Linked DNA regions of Homo sapiens: region 2 is linked to region 1. Evidence: fine-mapped expression QTL. A gene starts in region 1. The other region holds a variant in brackets. All regions are shown on one strand. Distances are from middle to middle. Region 1 holds the start of MCOLN1 (mucolipin TRP cation channel 1). Region 2 has its middle 15 kb from the start of PEX11G.

Region 1 (2,905 bases):
TTTTCCAGCCTAATGGTTAGATCTAAGCTTTCAGCAACTGCTGGAGTCAAAACCAGTCACAGTAGCCCAAAACTGTCCCTGTCACACCCCCATGGGGATGTGCTTTCTAGGGCCTGGCCCCGTGCTGCTTTCTAGGGCCTGGCCTCCTGCCTAGCAAAGCAGTCAGGATAAATGTGTGCACTGTCAGAACCTCCCTTGCAGAGAGGGACAAGTTCCCGGCCCCTCCCTTTGCAATGAGATGCTGCTGTGGCTGTTTACGACAAAGCCAGAGGGCAGGGCCCGCTTACAGAGCTGAGATTACAGCTAACCCACCCCAGACCCTACTAGCTGGGACACCGGGACATCTATCAGGTAGGGGTCCCCAGCTAGCTCCAGAAGGGGAAGCTAACACAAGGGGTCTTCCTCCAGCCTCCCCGAGGAGGGGTGGCATCAGAATTGGCTAGAAGCCCGAATTTAAGAAGGCTGCGCTTCCAGCGGTTTGGAAAGCTAAAACTGAGTTAATCGCCTGGGGGCAATCCCTCCAGCTCTCCAGGCTTGAGCTTAGGGAAGCTGAGCATTTGTCCCCTGGAATCAGGAGGGGAAGCCTGGGAGTCTCACGTGCGGGTTGGAGAAGCTGGTGCCCGCTGTCTGAGTTCCAGACGAAGTTGAGCAATCGGAACCTAGGCTCCCAGTGGGAATCCCAGGAACCTCGCCGCCCCAGAGGGAGAAGCTGGCGGCCCGGCGCGATCCCTGCCTGAGTTTGGGAACCCAGCAGAGCCTGGGTTCAGGAGGAAGAATTGGAGAGGCTGGTGCCCACCCGCCGCCCAAGTTCTAGGAGCCGTCTGCCCTTTTCTCCACCGTGAAAAGTCAGCGCTGGAGCTTAGAAAAAAAGAGACTAGGAGCTCCGCCGCCCCAGGTGGGAGACACAGCCCGCCCGCCTGAGTTCGGGGCCCCACGGTGCCGCCCGCGCCCTCACCTGAGCCGCGCGGACCCGCCGGGGCTGTCATGCTGGGGCGGGAGCGCGGGACGCAGGCGGGTACGGCGGGGCAGCCTGGGTCCGATCGCCCGCCGCTGTCACTGCGACCTCGCTCCCTCGCGGCGCGGCTTCAAACCCTCCGGCATCAGCTGATCTGTGCCTCGGTCACGTGACCCGGTAGCCCAGAGCCCCTCACGTGACCGCCTCTGGTCCCGCCCCCTGCGCCACGACAACCCCTGCCGGAACAGCGCGCATGCGTGCCTCTGCCGGCGCCCTCTGGGTCGAAGGCAGTCGCTAGGTCCTAGCGCCGACGCGCTCTGGGTGGCGGGGGATGGGCTGACTCTGAGTTTGGCAACGACGAGCTCTGCCCTGGCTCCCGGCCATGCCCCGAATCCGGTGCCAGGCTTGTGACTTCCATGTCCAGAGCTTGACCCCTTATCCTCCTTGGTGCCTGGTGATGACCCTGCCTACTATCTCAACGCTGTCTTCCTCTTTCTCCCAGAAACTCCTTTTACCCTTCTCCTGCGCATCTTCAGCAAACACGATTTCCTAATTATGTATCAAATAGAACCACTTATCCCCACCCCATGGCCCCCAGCCCAGAGTCTTCCAACATTCCTGGCCTGGATCTTTGCAGCAACCTCCTCCCCGATCTCAGCCTCCCTCCACTCCACTCTCTACCCAGCAGCCACAAGCATCTTCAAAGAATAATTCCTATCCTTCCTGCGAGAACCTGCCCTCGGCTTCCCATTGCTCTGTAATGACAGGCAGAGTCCCCACTCTCGTCTATCAGGGCCCTCTGATCTGGCTCCTACCTCCATCCAAAGCTCATCTTTCTATAGCCCCAGAGCCTTTGCATACTTTTGCCCTGGAGCGTAATGGTTAAGAATTTGGACCCTGGAGGGCAATTGGGATTTAAATCTAGGCACTGACAATGCCACTTCTACATCTTCCAGAGTCCCTTCAACTCCAAGCTGAGCGCAGTGGGCGGTGGCATGCACCGGCAATCCCAGCTACTCGGGAGGCTAAGGTGGGAGGATCGCTTGAGCCCAGGAGGTCGAGGCTGCAGTGAGCTATGATCACACCACTGCACTCCAGCCTGGGCAACAGAGCAAGACTGTCTAAAAAAAAAAAAAAAAATGTGCCTCAATTTTCTCATTTGCAAAATGGGGATATTCAAAGTCATCTACCTACTGGGGCTGTTGAGAGGATTAAATGAGAGAATGCAAAAACTATCGCATAAGGCTGGGCAAACAGTACTGATTATTAAATTAGTGATTATTGGGATTACAAAATCCTTCATTGAGAAAGCTGCCTGCCATTTATATCAGAAGTCTTGTTATGCTTCTCCTAGAATGTACTATACCCCGTAATTATTTTTTAAGTATTCTGAATTTAGTATCTATGAGCTCCATGCAGGTCGAGGCCATATTTATCTTGTTCCCTGCTGAGACCCCAGCAATCCAGAGATGTTTGTTGATTGCATAAATGAGCAACTTTTTTTGTCCACTTGTATACCTACTGTATGGGCTTTGAAGAGCAAGGGGTAAGTGAGAGGAACAGAGAGTGGTGACTAGTGGGATGGACCAGGATGAGACACTGTGGGTTAAGCTGGAAAGTCTAGCTGGTGGGCCCAAGAAGGAAGCCAGGACACTGGAGCTCCAGATTGTGGCTGGCCCTGGCCACAATGTCCCATCTCCGGAGCAAGGGGCTGTGCTCAGAAAGAAAGCACAAAAGGCAAGCCACGACACAGAGCCCGGAGGCAGTGGGAGGATTTTACTGACTGCACAACACACAACTTCCCCAGGCCCCCGAGGATGCCGGCGTCTCCTTCAGCCATCAGGCCCCAGCAGTGCCCCTTGCTCCTGTACCCACTCTGGACTCTCGCCGGTAGGGAGGGCTGGGCTGACAGTGCCACGAGTGGGAGAACAGGGGTCAGGGCAGGACACA
Region 2 (2,905 bases), 48 kb after region 1:
GTGGGGGCTCCTTCTGCCCAGGACTCACGAGTGGGCCAGGCTTGGTGGGTTTCCCCCTTCTTTCCCTTGTCGGGGGTGCAGGCCTGTCCTGGCCCTCAGCAGAGGCCTCCTTCCCAGCCCCTAGCAGCACCTGCATGATTAGGGCATCTCATTGTCTACCTGGAGACCCAACTACTTACTAGCTCATACCAGTGGGGCCCTTGGAGCAGCGCCTCTGTGTGGGGAAGCCACATGACCACCTGGTCACAGGTGCCAGGAGGAAAAGCAAGCCACCTTCAGGGATACAGCCTGGGCTGGGAAGGCCTTGGACACTGACCATGTGGAGCCCAGGCACAGAGCAGACAGGTTGGATGCTTCCAGAAAGGGAGGCCGCTCTCCCACTCTCTCAGCTGGTCCAGTGGTTGTGTGTGTGTGTGGTTGTGTGTGTGTGTGTGTGTTTAAACAGTTTTATGGAAATATAATTCACATATAAAATTTATCCACAGAAGGGGGACAGTTCAGTGGCTTTTAGTACATTCACAGTCGTGCAAGCAGAGCCACAGTCAACCTTAGAACATTCCATCACCCCAGAGAGAAACCTCACACCCCTCAGCTGTTACCCACCCGCAGCCCCCAGGCTTGGTGACCACTACTCTGTCCCTGGGTTGCCCATTCTGGTCCAGTGGTTTTCAACCTTTTAGGGGCTGGGAACAGACCCCTTTGTGAACCTTAAAGACTACGGGCCCTCTTTTTTGAGACAGAGTCACTCTGTCGCCTAGGCTGGAGTGCGGTGGCGCGATCTCGGCTCACTGCAACCTCCGCCTCCTGGGTTCAAGCAATTCTCTGCCTCAGCCTCCCGAGTAGCTGGGACTACAGGCACGCCCAAGCATGCCTGGCTAATTTTGTATTTTTAGTAGAAACGGGGTTTCACCACGTTGCCCAGGCTGGTCTTGAACTCCTGTGCTCAAGTGATTCACCCACTTCGGCCTCCCAAAGTGCTGGGATTATAGGCGTGGGCCACCGTGCCCAGCCACTACAGGCCCTCTTTGCAGAACATCTCATTTTAGGGTGCCTCCAAGCCCCCCAGGGCCCATAAGGAGTGCTGAGGAAGGCTGGGGGCATCCCAGTGGAGGGGTCAGCTAGGCAGAGGTCAGAGGACGGCTGGGGTTGGGGTGGAGCAAATCAGAGGGTGGGGGGAGACACACACACACACACACACACACACACACTCCAATGCCCACCATCAGGAGAATAGCAACTGGCCAGTTTTATGTTGTGTGCATTTGACCACAATGAAGAAAAAATAGACCAGG[C/T]GCGGTGGCTCACGCCTGTAATCCCAGCACTTTGGGAGGCCGAGACAGGCAGATCACCTGAGATTAGGAGTTCAAGACCAGCCTGGTCAACATGGTGAAACCCCATCTCTACAAAAATGCAAAAATTAGCCGGGCATGATGGTGGGTGCCTGTAATCCCAGCTACTCGGGAGGCTGAGGCAGGATAATTACTTGAACCTGGGAGGCGGCGGTTGCAGTGAGTCAAGATAGCGTGCCACTGCACTCCAGCCTGGGTGACAGAGCAAGACTCCATGTCAAAAAAATAAATAAAAATGTAATAAATTAATTACATCCTTTTTTTCTTTTTTTTTTGAGACGAAGTCTCACTGTTGTCCCCCAGGCTGGAGTGCAATCGTGCAGTCTCGGCTCACTGCAACCTCCGCCTCCGGGTTCAACCGCTTCTCTTGCCTCAGCCCCCAGAGTAGCTGGAATTACAGGTGTTTGCCACCACGCCCGGCTGATTTTTGTGTTTTTAGTAGAGATGGGGTTTCAACATGTTGGCCAGGCTGGTCTCAAACTCCGGACCTCAGGTGATCTGCCTGCCTCGGCCTCCCAAAGTGCTGGGATTACAGGCGTGAGCCACTGCGTCCAGCCCTTTTTTCTTTTTTTTTTAAATTTCATTTCTTTTTTCTATCCCCCAAATTTCCTTTTTTTTTTTTAAGCTCTTATAGACAGGGTCTCACCATGTTGCCTAGGCTGGAGTGCAGTGGCACGATCATAGCTCACTGCAACTTTGAACCCCTAGGCTCAAGCAATCCTCCTGCCTTGGCCTCCTGTGTAGCTGGGATTACAGGTGCACGCCACCATACCTGGCTAATTTTTTTTTTTTTTTTTTTTTTTTTGAGACGGAGTCTCGCTCTATTGCCTAGGCTGAGTGCAGTGGCGCAATCTCGGCTCACCGCAAGCTCCGCCTCCTGGGTTCACGCCATTCTCCTGCTTCAGCCTCCCGAGTAGCTGGGACTACAGGCGCCCGCCACCACGCCCGGCTAATTTCTGTATTTTTAGTTGAGACGGGGTTTCACCTTGTTAGCCAGGATGGTCTCGATCTCCTGACCTCGTAATCTGCCCACCTTGGCTTCCCAAAGTGCTGGGATTACACGCGTGAGCCACTGCGCCCGGCCAACCTGGCTAATTTTTTAATTTTTCTGTGAAGGGGTTTCACTATGTTGCCCAGGCTGGTCTTGAACTCCTGGGCTCAAGCTATCCTCCTGCCTCAGCCCCCGCCTCCCCAAAATGCTGGGATTACAGGGATGAGCCACTGTGCCCGGCCCTCCTTTTACTTTTTTAATATGGCTACTAAAAATGAAAAATTCCACACGTGGCCTGCATCATCTTCCTGGTGGACAGTGCTGCCTGAGAGTTCCCTTTTTGCGCTTCCTAGTGAGCTAGTGATCGACTTTACACCTAGTCCCCTTGTGATGGGAAACCCTCTGTTGAAACAGCAGGGTCCTCGCCTCACTGGACCGGGACTCAGACCAGGTGGAAATGATGATTTCATACTCATGGCCAAGCTGCCTCTCACCCCAGATGGAGGAAGTGAAAGTTCCAGCCTTTGCGGTTATTGTGGATTAAAAGCAAAAAGATTTTCGTGGA

What was found.
Region 2: its variant is fine-mapped to the expression of MCOLN1 in spleen (GTEx, PIP 0.99).

What each region holds. Positions count from the first base shown.
Region 1 is chr19:7,520,832-7,523,736 of GRCh38, reverse strand. It overlaps MCOLN1 (mucolipin TRP cation channel 1), which reads right to left and starts at 1,113. Exons shown (of 14, transcript NM_020533.3): 1 at 956-1,113. The coding sequence starts at 986. It overlaps LOC105372261 (a long non-coding RNA gene), which reads left to right. Exons shown (of 3, transcript XR_936294.3): 2 at 575-895. It overlaps ZNF358 (zinc finger protein 358), which reads right to left. Exons shown (of 2, transcript NM_018083.5): 2 at 2,712-2,905. The coding sequence ends at 2,788. RefSeq lists a silencer at 950-1,079.
Region 2 is chr19:7,473,058-7,475,962 of GRCh38, reverse strand. It overlaps a transcript of ARHGEF18 not described here. Among named protein-coding and RNA genes, the nearest start is that of PEX11G, 15 kb to the left of the region's middle. RefSeq lists a silencer at 2,759-2,808. The variant C/T (reference allele first, on the strand shown) is at 1,293.